Regions from separate parts of the Homo sapiens genome. Here region 1 is linked to region 2. The links come from fine-mapping of genetic effects on gene expression. A gene starts in region 2. The other region holds a variant in brackets. All regions are shown on one strand. Distances are between the middles of the regions.

Evidence for each region. PIP is the estimated chance that this variant, and not a neighbour inherited with it, causes the effect.
Region 1: its variant is fine-mapped to the expression of WDR55 in testis (GTEx, PIP 0.95).

Annotation. Positions count from the first base shown.
Region 1 is chr5:140,728,552-140,736,887 of GRCh38, reverse strand. LOC105378198 (a long non-coding RNA gene) reads right to left here. Exons shown (of 4, transcript XR_001742904.2): 2 at 4,728-4,791; 3 at 3,321-3,803. Among named protein-coding and RNA genes, the nearest start is that of ZMAT2, 32 kb to the right of the region's middle. The variant G/A (reference allele first, on the strand shown) is at 4,453.
Region 2 is chr5:140,661,556-140,669,891 of GRCh38, reverse strand. It overlaps WDR55 (WD repeat domain 55), which reads right to left and starts at 4,988. Exons shown (of 7, transcript NM_017706.5): 1 at 4,789-4,988; 2 at 1,558-1,658; 3 at 1,390-1,477; 4 at 1,101-1,280; 5 at 902-1,001; 6 at 644-813; 7 at 1-559. The coding sequence starts at 4,979. The coding sequence ends at 238. IK (IK cytokine) reads right to left here. Exons shown (of 20, transcript NM_006083.4): 17 at 8,184-8,272; 18 at 7,885-7,993; 19 at 7,679-7,713; 20 at 7,412-7,590. The coding sequence ends at 7,563. LOC124901088 (a long non-coding RNA gene) reads left to right here and starts at 4,455. Exons shown (of 2, transcript XR_007058968.1): 1 at 4,455-4,527; 2 at 4,735-7,481. RefSeq lists enhancers at 4,854-4,983, 5,334-5,493, 4,911-5,577.

The DNA.
Region 1 (8,336 bases), 67 kb before region 2:
CAGAACACAAAGGCATCTTGTGCACAGCCTCTGTGGACTAGGTGCAATCAGTCTGTGGTCGGTGGTCAGTATAACAATGGAATGTTTAATAAGGCTGGTCAGTAGTCATGGTGAAACCACGATAAAAGAGGGGAGGTCAGCCATGACATCAAGAGGTCTCTTGAGGTTGAGGGAGAAATCTTCCAGACAGTTTTTTAGGAACTCGTTTCTGTTTAATTGTAGGAAGGAAAGTTTTGAGGCAGTTAACAAGGTAGGGGAGTGTTGAGGTGTGACTGACCTCTTGCCTTGCCAAAGCCATAGAATGCAGTTTTCAAAGTTTCTGGGGTCTCTTTTGCAACAAGAAGTCCATTCTGTTTCACCTAGGGGCTTAGGGACTTTAGTTTTATTTCACACTTTCCAGCTTTAGGCTGAAATCTGCCATAGGCAGCATTGATGGCTAAATTTTCTAACATGTCCCATGTCGTTCCCAGGATGGTGTGGATACCTGCCCCAGGTCTATCTAGTCTGTCAGTGGGACTCATGTGGCTAGGAGACTTACAACCAGTTGAATATTTTAGGCCAGGCAAGAAGGAGGCAGACAGCTATTAAGACCCTTTGAACCTTTGAGACTAGAAAAACAGTAACAACAGAAAAGTTGAGAAGGTAAGTTTATGTTTATGTTGTCTGTCATTTCTATGCATTGTGCTACCATAACTTTGGTTTTAGTGACAGACTTGAAGTAGTTGGTTATAGATCTTATAAGTACTTTGACTATCAAAAATAGGAACAAGATAGTGATATGATAATGACAAGGGTTTGTAAGATGGATTGGAAGTAATTTCTAATACTGCAATGAGTCAGCTAAAAACGTTATTAAGGGGATCTGTGGTTTGTACCTCCTGTAACCAGGCAGCCTGTTGGGTGATCTTACCTACATGGGTTGTTAAATCTCCTATAATGTTGATATAAGTGCAACAAGTGGTGTGGGCTATCATGCAAATTCCCCCTTGTTTAGCAATGAGAAAACCTGGTGCAATTTGATTGTCTAAAACCACTTGAGCGAGAGAATTTAAGGACTTCTACTGTGTCATAATACTTATTGCAGCATTTTCAGCAATTTGTCCTATGGTGGCCGGCATTTTTTTTTATCGTATCTCTGTTAGTGTATACTCCGTAGCTGAGAAAAATTACACCCCAAAAACTATGCTACCACATATCCTGATATCCACTTGGTAGCTCTCTTTTAGCTTACCGGAAAGCAAGATTTTCTTTATGATTGAGATGGATGGAAAAGAGGGCAACGTAATGACCTAGAAGGCAAAGTCCTTCAACTTGCCAGCTGTTTATGCATCTGTGTGCCTCTTCTTGAACTGGGGGATCTGACTCAATTCTATATAGGAAAGTGTGTCCTCAAGGGGCACAAGTTATACCTCCAAGGGTATGCCAATTTATACGTTCATTTATGAACAAGATATCTATTATGTGAGTGAACCACGAACTGGTTTTGTTGCAAGCCTTCTAGAAGCCTGCAGAGGCATGATATCTAACAAAGAGGAGCTGTTGTCAGTGTTTGATATTTTTTCTTTGGGCATTCAGTGGTTATGTACAGTAGCAAGGGTGGGAGTCCCAGAATCTAAGGAGAAAGCTACATAGACATAAAAATCTTAATCTTTTTAAAACTCAGTTTTCTGGTTTGGTGCAGTGGCTCATACCTGTAATTCCAGCACTTTGGGAGGCTGAGGTGGGAGAATTGCTTGAGCCCAAGAGTTTGAGACCAGCCTGGGCAATATACTGAGACCTAATCTCTACAAAAACCTTTTCAAAAGAATAGTAAAATTACCTTTTACTCAAAAGGGTAAGGGTTAAGGTGTGGGTTTGGTAACAGAAGTGGTCAATAAAACTAAAATTGTGAGGAGTGAAACAGAGGAGTCCATTTTAGTTATAAAAAAATTAAACCAAGAGAGAAATCATAAATTCCATACAAATTGCTGAGGGTCACTATCTAGAGTCTGGGGGTATTCTTTAAGGTAATGGAGTATTTGATTAACAAGGAGCATGGTAACTATGTTTTCTAAAGTGAGGATTATAGGCTCTGGGAAAGGGATTTTGGACTTGGAGGTGGATGAGAAATTTTAGAAGTATCTAAAAATGGAATACAAGGGTAAGCATTGTAGCACAACATAGGATCTCCAGAATACATAATATTCCCAACGTCAGGGTAATCAGTCAATAACGCAGGTACTTGAGGCAATGGCAATGGTAATTTGTCTTAAGTCAAAAGTGGGCGAGTTAAAATACAGCCCTGGTCCAGCATCTTGGACAGGCAGTCCACCTCAGCTGTCATCTTCTTCTCAGCCATGAGGTGGAACCCTAGTCTAAGTCTGGTGTCAGATACTGGTGTTGAGGTCCAGTCTTCCGCGGAGGGAAGAACTTCGTTATTCCAAGTGAGAAATTGGTATTCAAATATGTTAAAGTCTTTTCGATAGAAAGCAATTTGGATTATAGCTTATTGCAAATGTTTTTAGAGAAGAATTAAAAACAGTAACTGTAGATGACAAAAACTTAGAATGGCTATGGTTAAAATCTAATGAAAGTTCTCAATTGACAAGAACATTTAGTTATTTACATTATATGTAGTATTTTAAGATAACAACCAAAATTATGACTGATAACACATTAGATCTTTCTGAATTTATATAAATTTTGAACCATTTATATCAACAACATATCATAGTGTAATTAAAAGAAGATCTAGTATTGCTTATTATTTGACAATGTTTTTATATAATTTACCAAATAAGCCTAATCATTTAAAATATCTCTATAAAATGAGAGATATATCTGTTGAAGCTTTTTAGGGGCCCAATTAGAAAATCTTAAAGTTAATTCTAAGTAAAAAGACTTAATTTAGGATTGATTTTGAGGATGTTTGTCAAAGATGTTAAAAGGCCCAAAATATTTGATCAAAACAGGATCACGGGTCATTGTAAAATAATATTCATTTAACCGAAGTGACAATCAAAAGACTTTAAAAGTAATACAGAAAGCTACATAAACATAAAAATATTAATCTTCTTAAAACTCAGTTTTCTGACTTGGTGCAGTGGCTCACGCCTGTAATTCCAGCACTCTGGGAGGCCGAGATGGAGAATTGCTTAAGCCCAAGAGTTTGAGACCAGCCTGGGCAATATACTGAGACCTCATCTCTACAAAAACCTTTAAAAAAAAATTAGCCTAGGATGGTGGCACATGACTGTAGTCCCAGGCGTTTAACTGTAGGAAAGAAAGTCTTGAAGCAGTTAATGAGGTAGGGGAGTTTTGAGGTGTGACCGAACTCTTACCTTGCCAAAGCCATAGAATCCAGCTTTTAAAGTTTTCTGGGGTCTCTTTTGCAACAAGGAGTCCATTTCATCTTGCCTGGGGACCTACGGGCTTTATTTTTATTTCACAGAGGGAAAAAGGGAACCTCATAACTGGTCAGCATGGATAAAAATTTTGTCCCCTATTTGGCCTTCTTTAACACCACGTTGGTGGGGTCTTGGGGTAACTTCTTATAGCCGCTCAGTGGTGGAAGTTTAGGCTCCTACTCAGCCTTTGCTGAAGTGGGTGGGGCCATAGTTGTTGGAGTGTGTGTGTGTGTGTGTGTGTGTGTGTGTTTGGTGTTTGGCTGGGGTAGAACAGTTATTGTCTAAGAATTTTATGTCTTTCTAAGCTGTCCTCTTCCTGATCCTGGTCCTATGAATAGAGAAAGCAGACTTTTGCTGGGGCTTTTAAAATCTGCGTCCATTGGCATTTCCAGATTGCCAGCTTCTTCAGTTCCAAGTCTGGAATACAAAAGGAAAAAAAAACTTACGACTGTGTTGTACCTTGAGTCTTGAGATCCCTAGCTGGTCTGCCTTTTGTCTGCCTTTCATTGTATTACATTTGTTTTATGTACAATGCTTTGGGGTTTTAGCAGGATGAATGGGGAATATTACATTTACTCCACCTTCCTGGAAGCAGAAGTATGTGTAATATTTTGAATAAATACCATAAACTATTCCATGCATTCATGAAATATGCAATTTCTCATTCACCAATGTAAATGGCTTGATTCACCATTATAGAACCATGCATAAGTACAACAAGGAAGTTTTATTTAGGGAAACTCAAGCAAAAATAAAAAGGCAATTTGTCAAATGTAAAAAGGTATTTGCCTGCAAATATAAGAAGTATAGACCAAGCGCAGTGGCTCACGCCTGTAATCCCTGCATTTTGGGAGGCCAAGGTGGATGGATCACCTGAGGTCAGAGTTCGAGACCAGCCTGGCTAACATGATGAAATCCCGTCTCTACTAAAAATACAAAAAATTAGCTGAGCGTGGTGGCACGCACCTGTAATCCCAGCTACTCACTCAGGAGGCTGAGGCAGGAGAATCACTTGAACCCAGGAGGCAGAGGTTGCAGTGAGCCGAGATCCTGCCACTGCACTCCA[G/A]CCTGGGCAACAACAGCAAAACTCCGTCTCAAAAAAAAAAAAAAAAAAAAAGAAGTATAATAAACACTTTCTATGTTCCAAACCTCTTGCTAAGCACTGTTGTAGCTCTCATAACCTATACTATATTGAGGAGCCCAAATTGCTTTCGAAAGTATTTCTACTTTCAAAAGTATTAAGTCTTTTGACTTACTTTCCATACAGCAATGCAAATAAGCAACTGCTACGCACAACAAAATAGATGAATCTAGAAACATAATGAGGGTCTTTGGCCATACCATCTTGAACGTGCCCGGTCTCCTCTGATCTTGGAAGCTAAGTAGGGTCAGGCCTGGTTAGTACCTGGATGGGAACATAAGGAGGAATGAGAAAATCAGTCACGTATTATTCCATTAATACAAAGTTGAAAAAACAAAACAATCGTAATATTAGAAATCACCTCAAGGCTTTCTTCTGAGGACAAGTGTGAGAGAAGTGACTACAGGAGGCTCTAGAAGGGCTTTATGGAACAGTCCTATTTATAGACATGTGGTGATTTCATGGTTTTCTTTACTTTGTATTAATTCATAGAGCTGTAAATTTATGATTTGGGTACTTTTTTGAAAATATACTATTTTATCTAAAGATGTATTTTTAAAAAAAGACGCACACTATTCAGCATTCAAGGTTAAATAAGAAAATACATTACGTGGGCCGGGTACAGTGGCTCACGCCTTTAATCCCAGCACTTTGGGAGGCCGAGGTGGGCAGATCACGAGGTCAGGAGATCAAGACCATCCTGGCTAACACGGTGAAACCCCGTCTCTACTAAAAATACAAAAATTAGCCGGGCGTGGCGGTGTGCACCTGTAGTCCCAGCTGCTGGGGAGGCTGAGGCAGGAGAATGGCTTGAACCCGGGAGGCAGAGCTTGAAGTGAGCCGAGATCGCGCCACTGCACTCCAGCCTGGGCGACAGAGCAAGACTCCGTCCCAAAAAAAAAAAAAAAGAAAAAGAAAAAGAAAATACATTATGTGAATTTATTCTATATACTTAAAATGAAGATTTTGTCTTTTTTCATGAAAATACAATGAGGTACCAAATTACAGCCATAAAATTGACAAAAATTTTTAAAGTTGTACAATGCCAAATATTGGGGACATGATACACTGCTGGTAGATGTGTAAGCTGGTAGAAATACTTTGGAAAACCACTGGGCAAAACTATAGAACTGAAGACATGAATCCACTAAATACTTAGCAGTTTGACTCCTAGGTATGTACCCTGGAGAAATATATGCTGAAGTGCCGCAGGACATATGTATAAGATGGGAATATCTGTTTTTTCTGGGTTTCAGTTATTATGAACAATGAACCAAAACTAGAAATGCTACAAATATCCATCAATATTAAAATGAATAAGTAAATCATCTTATATTCATTAAATGGAATAGTAACCCACAACATAAACAAAATGGATAAATCTTACAAATGTATTATTGAACAAAAGAAGCAAAACAAAACAAACACTTCAATATAACTATATTTATGAAAGTAATCAAAATAGGAAAACTAAATTATAGCACCCAGGCATTCATACATAAGTGGTAAAGATATAAAGAAGAGTGAGAAAATTATTATTATAAAAATCAGGTAAATGGAGGGGGCGGGCACAGTGGCTCACGCCTGTAATTCCAGCACTTTGGGAAGCCGAGGTGGGCGGATCACTTGAGGTCAGGAGTTCGAGACAAGCCTGGCCAAAATATTGAAACGCTGTCTCTACTAAAAACACAAAAATTAGCTGGGCATGGTGGCACATGCCTGTAATCCTAGCTACTCAGGAGGCTGAGAGAGGAGAATCACTTGAGCCCAGGAGGCAGAGCTTGCAGTGAGCTGAGATACCCCCACTGCACTCTTGCCTGGGTGAAAGAGCAAGACTCTGTCTCAAAAATAATAATAATAGTAATAGAAATATTAATAAATAAATAAAAATCAGGTAAACAGGGCTGGGCACAATGGTGCATGCCTACAGTCTCAGCACTGGAGAGGTTGAAGCAAAAGGATCACTTGAGCCCAGGAATTCAAGGCTGTTGCCACTATGATTATACCTGTGAATGGCTACTATACTGCAGCCTGGGCAACATAGCAAGACCATCTTCTCTAAATACAATAAAAATAAATAAGATAAACAATCAGGTGAATGGTTAATTCCAAAAGAAAGTGAAGGGATTGTAAAAATCAAAAGAGAGAGAGGGTTTCTGGGATGTTGGCAATGTTTTCTTACCTTAGTAGTGATTATATGGATTCATTTTATAAGCATTTATTTAAATCTATGTATTTACCTCATGAATTTTCTGCATGTATGTTATATCTCACAGTTTAAAAATGTTTAATTAGTGAACAGTAGAAAATTGATACAGTCATCATAAGCATACATGCATCTACAATACAGTCTTGAACTACATCAAATAGGAAAAAATACATAAATCACCAATTGTAGTTGGAAATGTTTTAATATGCATCTCTAAGGACTGTAGATCACATAGACCTGAAAATAGTATGGATATGAATGAGCTGAAAAGAAAAACAATTTTAAAAATATGTAGACCCAAAATAAACAGGCATTATTTTTGAATATATATATAACACTTACAACAATAGACCATGTGTTAGGCTATAAATTCCACAGATCTGATCCCATTCAGACAATGTTCTCCTATTACAATGCATCCTGGAATTAACATTTGTAAAAACAATAGCTAAAATAAAATCCCATGTGTTTGGAAACTAAATAACATATTACTAAATAAGATTCTGCTTAAAAAATACTTAGAAGTGAATGAAACACTACATGAAGAATTTGTGTACTACAACTAAAGCAGTACTTAAAGGTAAACTTGCAGTTTTAAATACACTAATGATTAAGAAAGATTAAAATCAAATGAGCTGCCACAGGAGATACAACCTCACACCCTTCAGGATAGCTGCTATCAATCACACACACACACACACACACACACACAGAGAGAGAGAGAATAAGTGTTAGTGAAGACATGGAGAAATTGAAGCATTTCTGCACTATTGGTGGGAATGTAAAGTGATACAGCTGCTATGGAAAACAGTACAGCAGTCACTTAAATAATTAAAAGTACAATTACCATATAACCCAGCAATTCCACTTCTGGGTATATACCCAAAGGAATTGAAAGCAGAAACACAAACAGATATTTGTACACTCATGTTCATAGCAGCATTGTTCATAATAGGCAAGAGGTCAAAACAACCCAAATGTCCATTGATGGACAATGACTAAACAAAACATTCCATTTTAATAGTATTCCATTGTAGTATTCACATACAATAAAATATTATTTATCCTTTTTCAAAAGGAATGAAATTGTAGTACATGATACAACGTGGATGAACCTTAAGAACATTGTGCTGGCTGGGTGCGGTGGCTCATGCCTGTAATCCCAGGAGAATCATGGGGTCAGGAGATCGACACCATCCTGGCTAACAGAGTGAAACCCAGTCTCTAGTAAAGTTACAAAAAATTAGCAGGACATGGTGGCAGGAGGCTGAAGTCCCAGCTACTTGGGAGGCTCAGGCAGGAGAATCGCTTGAACCCAGGAGGTGGAGGTTGCAGTAAGCCGAGATTGTGCCACTGCACTCCAGCCTGGGTGACTGAGCCAGACTCCATCTCAAAACAAAACAAAACAAAACAAAATAAAACATAGTGCTAAGTGAAATAAACGAGTCACAAAAAGACAACTACTGTATGATTCCACTTCTATGAGATACCTAGAGTAGTCAAATTTATAGAGACGGAAAGCAGAATGGCAGTTGCCAGGGATTAGGGATAGAGGGAGGTGGAGAGTTATTAGTTAATGGGTATAGAGTTTCAGTTTTGA
Region 2 (8,336 bases):
CCTGGTGTGGTAGTGCACACCTGTAGTCCCAGCTGCTCCAGAGGCTAAGGTGGAAGGACAATCTGAGCCTGGGGACATTGAGGCTGCAGTGAGCCAAGATCAAGCCAGCGCACTCCAGCCTGGACGATGGCAAAACCCTGTCTTTTCAAAAAATAATTCATATCCTCTCTGGGGATGCAGCCCAATAAGCAAGACTCTTGCCTGGTGAGGACCCGTCTCAAGATTCAATTCATTCCTTCAGTCACTGTCATCCCCAGTCTCCTCCTTTTCTTCCTGAGCCATGGAGTCTTCTCCCTCTTCCCTCAGTCCTGCGAAGAAGTCATCGGTGCTCCAAGTCTTGCTGCTCAGAGCCCGCAGTGGTCCTCCCTTTTTTTTGCGCCGACGGTAGTCATCCACCACCACAGCTCGCAGCTGGGCCATGTCCCAAAACTTGAGGCGCTGGTCATGGCCACTACTGGCCAGGAAGCGGCCACAGTGGGAGAGGGCCAGCTCCTCCACAGGCTCCCCAGTGTGCTGGCCCACACTGCCCACCACTCGGTTCGGTAGGATGTTCACAGCCCTGGGCAGGGAAAGAACAGTGTTGAGTACTGGCTAGCTGGGTCTGCCCTTCCTGTGACCTAAGGGCTGTCCAGGCTTCCCTCACCTGATGACTCCATCAGTGGAGCCAGTACACAGCAGACTCTCGGTGACTGGAACCATGCAGTCGATAGATTCAGCTCTCAGGGCAAAGCGGTCACTTGTGGCCCCAAAGCCATTCCAATTGAAGAGGTAGATGGTACCTTCACTGGAGCCACAGGCTACCTTCTTCCCCCACTGCAGGGAAATAGAGAAAACAATGTGGAAGCTGCCTCAGACTAAGCCCCCAGCACACACCCCTCCATCCCACCATAACCAGCTGTACTTTCATGAGAGTGACAGAGGTCAGGTCCCCAGACTGAGGTTCTGAGAGCAGCTCAAACCGACGCCTCTTAATGTTGAAGATGCCAAGGCAGCCATCCCCGCTGTAGAGAGTAGAGCAGTAGGCTTAGACGCAAGGTCTATTTGAGGAAGACATTTCACACAGGGAGGGGAGGGGAGGCAAGGCAGCTTTGAAGTTGTACCTGGCTGTCAGCAGCAGCTTTTTGGCTGGATCCAGAGCCATGTCTGCGATGTACTCTTCATGTTGCCTCATATCCATTAAGGGGCCCTCCTTCCGCTGGTCCCAGAGACAGATACCACCTGTGTCATCCCCAGTGGCCAGAACATTCTCATCCACCAGCAGAAGACTATTGATGGGGGCACTAGAGACACAGATGTAGAACTTCTTGGAGCATCTCTGTCCCAGTGGGGACCTCCTGGTCCTTACCCTTCACCTCCATGCACATACACAGAATTGGCTGCTCTCCTTACCCATGAGCCTTGGAAACACGTCTTTCCAGTTGGCCCTGCTCCACATCTAGAACATGGATGGCTTTGTCCTTGGAGACAGTAATGAGCTCTGGGGAAAAGGTGCCCAGGTCATGGTGCTGCTCACTGCTCCCTTCCACCACATTGCTGGTTGTCTTCCCCAGTACTCACTCTGCCCATCTTCAGAGAAGGCCACAGCTCGGCAGGCCTTGAGATGGTGACCTGATGACCAGAGCTCCTTGGTTTCTCCCTCTTGGCAAGAGTAGGAAAAGCTGGGGAGAGGGCAAGGAGGGTAAATGACTCCAGACCCAGCCTGGGTTGCATTGAGTGCAGAGACCAACTAGACAGAGCAGCCTTCCCACCTACCTAAGAGTTCCTGCTTCTACACCTCTAAGCCCAAAAAGTTTACCATCTCATTTCTCCATTTTCAGTGAGTTTGAAATGTTAGGTCCTGCTTTTTTCAATATATGTTAGTTCAAGGTATATTTGCGCAAGATTTCTTTGTGATCCCACCCAACCCCTCTTTATCATCTTTGAAAGCCCCAGCCTGGACAAAGATTGGGTCTGGACCACTGTGGAGGAGATATTTGTTACATCAATGACAAAAGACCAGCCCCAGAAGTTAGAAATCTAAAAATCAGTAAGGTAGAGCAGGCTCTTGCACTTCAGGTCTGCAGGAGCTAGAGAAAGCCACAATTAATTACAGTACATTGAGAGTACGTGCTGAAAAAGAGGCAAGATCAAAATGGAGGTGGGGGAGAGGCACCAGCCTGTAAACAACTTTGAGGTGAGTACTGTTTATGGAATACCCCCAAGTGCCTGCCTCAGAGCAGATCCTCAAAAAGGGCAGAATGAATACATGCTTAATTGCCAGTGAGTTCCAGGTAGGCAGAACTGAGCCTGCTCATTTTCTCTATCCCAGTGCTGAACGTGAAAAAGTAGCTTAATAAACATTCACAAATTGAATGAATACTTGGGAAGGGAGAAGAGAGCCCTGGAAAGCTAAGGTGGTGACATGTGGGTTGGATCATACAAGAGTAGAATTTGCCTGGCAGAGAGCAAGGGCCAGATACTGGAGGCAGCAGAGATAAGGAATGAGGAGGGTTCCTTGTAGCAGGAGAGTAGCATGACTGAATCTAGAAAGATGGGCTGGGGTGGGCATGAGACCACATGAGCCAAGCAGAAGTTTGAATTTAATCCTCGGAAAAGGAACCTTTTCACAATAGTCATGGCTGAGGGTGGGGAAGGGGAGAACCAAGAATTTTCCTCCAGAACCTTTTTTAAGACAAGGGAAGCAACAAAGTTGTGTGGAATGTGAAGAAAGGTGGATGTCTAGGGCAACTCCCAAGTGCCTGGCACCATAAATATGGATAGTAGTAGAAGGGAACCTACATTTGTTGAAGAGCTGCTTAGGTGCTGTACTGCAAACTTGTCCCCTCTGCAAGGGTAGGTATAATTCCCCCTTTCAAAGATGAAAATACAGAAGTTAACACGCTCAAGGCCATTACAGCTAATGAGGGGTTGAGGTTTAAATTCATTAAGTAAATCTGATAAGCATAACATCTTCAACTTTTCCACTGCCTCTAACCTGTATCTTTTGTTCAAAATCAAACATGTGTTGAGCATCTACCCTAGACTAGAGGTTGGAGATAAAATAGAGAACAAAACCGATGACAGATTACACTCCAGAACAGTGTTTTTTCACATTCTAGTCATATAACGGACTAGTAAGCTACGATCAGCATTTTGTGTACATGTACACAATAATAGAATAAAATCAGCAATTGTATCACAGAGCATCATATATAATGTAAAAGGTATTTCTCTGTGAGGCAAGGTCAAAGACGTTTGAAAAACATTAGTGAAGGAGACAGCATTCAAATAATTACACAAATGGACATATGGTTACCAACCATTCATTATTAAGGGAAAGGTACCATGGCACCTGGTGCCATGGCAGCATCTAACAGGTAACCAATTTTAGTCTGGGGAGAGAGGAAGAGGGAAGAGATCCTGGAAACTCAGAGATAGTAGGTAAAAGTGAGGGGAAAGGAGTTTTCCGGACAGAATAGCACATGCAAATGGGCTGAGGTTTCGAGATTTTTTTTTGAGATGGAGTTTTGCTCTTGTTGCCCAGGCTGGAGTGCAATGGCACGATCTCGGCTCACTGCCACCTCCACCTCCCAGGTTCAAGCGATTCTCCTGCCTCAGCCTCCCGAGAAGCTGGGATTACAGGTGCCCGCCACCACACCCAGCTAATTTTTCTATTTTTAGTAGAGACAGGATTTCACCATGTTGGCCAGGCTGGTCTCCAACTCCTGACCTCAGGTGATACCCCACCTTGGTCTCCCAAAGTGCTGGGATTACAGGCATGAGCCACCACGCCCGGCCCAAGACGTATTTTTAAAAGGTATGGATGAATGAGCACAGATGGTCAGGGCGTTGAAGGCAGGATTGAGAAATTTGTACTAAATCCTAAAAGCAGACCATTGAAGGGTTTTAATCAAGGGAGTGTCTCACTCTATTGTCCAAGCTGGAGTGCAGTGGCACGATCTTGGCTCACTGCAACCTCCACCGCCCGAATCCAAGTGATTCTTCTGCCTCAGCCTCCCGTGTAGCTGGGATTACAGGCCCGCGCCACCACACCGGGCTAATTTTTGTATTTTTAGTAGAGACGGGGTTTCACCATGTTGAACAGGCTGGTCTCGAGCTCCAACCTCAGGTGACCCGCCCACCTCGGCCTCCCAAAGTGCGGGTATTACAGGCGTGAGCCAAGATTTGTGGTTTGAAAAATCACTTAAAGGGGCCTGCTGAGCCTGTCTCGGGCACAATATAATAATCCGGTAGGAGTCCGGGCACGGTGGTTTACGCCTGTAATCCCAGCACTCTGGGAGGAAGGCAGGTGGATCACGAGGTCAGGAGTTCAAGACCAGCCTGGCCAAGATGGTGAAACCCCGTCTCTACTACAAATACAAAAAAAATTAGCCGGGCGTGGTGGCGGGCGCTTATAATCCCAGCTACTCGGGAGGCTGAGGAAGAGAACTGCTTGAACCCGGAAGGGGGAGGTTGCAGTGAGCCCAGATCGCGCCACTGCACTCCAGCCTCGGCGACAGAGCGAGACTCCGTCTCAAAAATAAATAGGTAAGTAAATAAATAATAATCGGTGGGAAATAACAAGGCCTTAAAGGGCTTTTTGGCCTACTACGGTATCTGGGCTCTGTCACGACATTCCAGTTCTTTCAACAGATTGGTGTGATAGAAGAGCCGAATGTTACTGAATAAATTGGACCCAAAGAATCTTGCAAAATTTGTCTCCCTGCAACTTTCTCTCATCTCTCCTGTTCCCAGGTCCACCCCCGGGAAGCTTCCAGACCCGGCGCCCCGGCCCTGCCCCGCTCTCACACGAACACGTCCCCGTCCACGTCCCCTGCAGCCAGTAGGTCACGGGCCGGATGGAACGCCAGCCCACTAGCCGGAGCTTCCAGCACGATGTCTTCCGGAGTGTCCCGGATCCGGGTTGGGGCTTCCATGGAGTCTGGGTCCTCCTCGTCGCTCCCATCCTCAGCGGGCCTCTCCTCACAAGTGCGGTCCATGCTGAGAAGGACTGCGAGCCGCGCCGCCGCAGGGTAGTCAGCCTCGGAACCACCCACACTGCGGGAGGAGTAGCCTGGCACTCCGCTTCCGCCTCGGGGGGCGGGGCCGGAAGTGTCTCCGGGACGTTCTTCCTCTTACAGGAGAGGTGGGTGGGCCGCTGCTGGTGCGGGTGGAGCGGAGCGAAGAGACCGCATCTGGGAGATCGGCTACTTCCTTGTCCTGCTGTGACCCCGTTTGGGCTAGGTAGACGGTGCGACCGTCAATTCCCTCCCTAGTCACGTCACGTAAAGTTGAGAACTGCGTGTAAATCTTTCCTCTCCTACTTCATCCAGACAGGCTTAATGCCCTTGGGATAGGAGAGAGGGACGCTAGTCCTTCGTGGCTTGGTGAAACCCAAGATCAAGTCAAGCGACAGCCTGGGCTGTCAGGAAGCCGCAAAATCCCACGCTGCGCGATGACATACGGGAGTCTGGGACAGCAGGCAGCTCAAGCAGCTGGTGTCCACGCCCCTAACGTCTTTGTGGCCAGTTTGCTGTGCCAGTTCCTACAATTTGTCTACAGAAACTCAATGGGCTGGACAAGCAGTGCTCAGTTACCAAGAATTTTTTTTTCTTTTTTGTTTTGCTTTGTTTTGAGACAGGGTCTTGCGCTGTCGCGCAGGCTGGAGTGCAGTGGCACGATCACCGCTCGGCTCAAGCGATCCTCCGAGTAGCTGGAACTACAGGCACGCGGCACCACGCCTGGCTAATTTTTATTTATTTATTGAGACGGAGTCTCGCCCTGGCTGGAGTGCAATGGTGCGATCTCGGCTCACTGCAACCTCCGTCTCCCGGGTTCAAGAGATTTTCCTGCCTCAGCCTACCGAGTAGATGGGACTAGAGGCGCATGCCACCACGCCCAGCTAATTTTTTGTATCTTTAGTAGAAACAGGGTTTCACCATGTTGGCCAGGCTGGTCTCAAACTCCTGACCTCGTGATCCGCCCGCCTTGGCCTCCCAAAGTGCTGGGACTACAGGCGTGAGCCACCGCACCTGGCCAATTTTTGTATATTTTGTAGAAACGAGGACTCAGTATGTTGCCCAGGCTGGCCTTGAACTCTTGACGTGTCTTCCCACCTCAGCCTCCCAAAGTGCTAGGATTATAGGCGTGAGCCACGGCGCCCAGCCCCTGAATTTCTTTTTTTAAATCAAGGTCTTGCTCTGTCACCCAGGCTCAGAATGCAGTGGTGTGATCATAGCTCACTACAGCCTTGAACTCTTCGGTTCGATCCTCCTGCATAGCTATAGACTCATGAACTCCTGGCCTCAAGAGACTCTCCTGCTTTGGCCTCCCAAAGCACTGAGACTGTGGGCATGAGCCATCGAGCCTGGCCTCAGAAACTGAATTTCAAACCCACAATCTCCAGGTCTTGCTTTTAGTGACTCTCCAGATGTCTTCACCTGTGCCATGTCTCTGTGACCATTTTTAATAATTGGGACTGCCTACCTACATCCATAGAACCATGGTGTCATTTGTCTGAAATTAGCCATTCTAGGTGCTATTGCAGCAAGGCCCAATTTCAGCCTCTTACATGCCATGCACAATACTGGCTTCCTCACAAAAACCTGTCCTACCAAGGTGAATATAATCAAAGACAAGGTAATGGCTAAGGTGACTTTCTAGCTTTCTTGGATCTGGTGAGGCCACAAATCTTGGGCTCAGGGTAGACAGTGGCAGCGTGGCATCCAGCCAGGAAGCAGTAGTGACACCTAATGATGAGCACCAGGCCAAAGTGCTGGTAATGAGCAGAAGGGAAGAAAAGGGAAGGGAATGGTGTGATTCAAAGGTCAACAGACCTATTCTGGGCCTTGGCAAATGTTTCAGGGTGATGAAGGGCACCAAACCCTTCTGGTCTAGGATAGGAATTCCTGTACCTGCAGGGCCACACTATATCAGCTCTAAACCCAAAGCACTTCCCTAAGGTTACACCTTTAGCCAAGGAGACAGTGATTTGTACTCAACATTAATAAAGCTCATAGTACATAAACTCATAAAAGGTTTTGGTTCCCACCCATAAGTGATTTTCATTAGATGCCTTCATCCAGAGCCCAGTCCTTCATAGCCTGGAGATCAGATTAGCAGCCCATCAGGCTGACAGCAATCCCCAGGAAATCTTTCCCCAGGGACTAGGCCTGAAGATGGGCCGGAATGAGTCTGACATTTGAGACCAATCATACTTACATTCCTCTATCCACCTCTTGCCCATCAGTGAGGATCATTATTCTCTTCTCTACTGGGCACACTGGCTAGAGAGCATCCTTACTGTCTAGGAATCTAGAACCACAGCTCAGGAAAGGACTGATGACTTTCTGCATGTGATTTTACACAACCAGTGGAATTAGTGTTCTTGGTGCTTCAAGGGCACTGGAGGGGACATGCTCAACAAAGAAAATAGCAAGTTAACCAATTTTAATGGAACCAAGTAATTACACAATAAAATTTTATATTCATCCACAAAAAAACATCTTGCAACCTTTGGAAATTGTAGAAAGAAAACAGTGGGGAGCATATCCTTGTGGAGCATCTCTGGTTGTAACTAGTGATTAGTATTTTGGTCTTTTGACTTCAACCCTGCAATGGAAGGAGAAATGGGTCAGTATAAGATCAATACACTAAGCAATTCCCACCAGTCCCACAGAGGAAGAATAATGCCGCTCACCCATCAGCTTCCATCTTCTTCCTCTTCTCAATGATCTGCAAAAACAACAGGATAGTCTATCACCAAGCTGCCCATCTAAGCTCACCTGAGGCCCAAGGCTGACCTCTCATTTCCATGGCTCTCCAGCCCCTTGCCTGTTCCTGAATCTGCAGGCTAATGTCTTCTCCCAGCTGAAACCCTCCCACCCAAGGGGCCATCCTACTTACTGCACTAATCTTCTTCCACTGGCGATCAAGCTCTGCTTTGTCATTGGTTTCCTTGAAGCGCCTGGTTTTCCGCCCTTCAGACATTTTGATACCATACTGGAATGCAGCCCTGAAAAAAGCAGTTGGGAAAGAATGCATCAGAGATTGCATAGCAGTGGCGAGGTTTTCCCAGAGTCCTGTGGGCAAAGAACTTAGTGGGGAACATCTCAGCCAGACCACACCCTCTAACCTTATATGCACTATTCCACCAAATCCCCACACCCCTCCTCACACCCTGCCCATATTCAGTACCGACTCACTTGGGCAAAGCTTCTTTGTTGTTCATATACTCGCTGTATTCTTCCTGGGTATCAAAGTCCCAACGGCCTAAGGGCCCCTTCTTGTTACCCTGTTGCAGGACAGAATCGGGGGATGGGGAAGGAAGAGATGTCAGTGGAAATGGAATTTCAGCC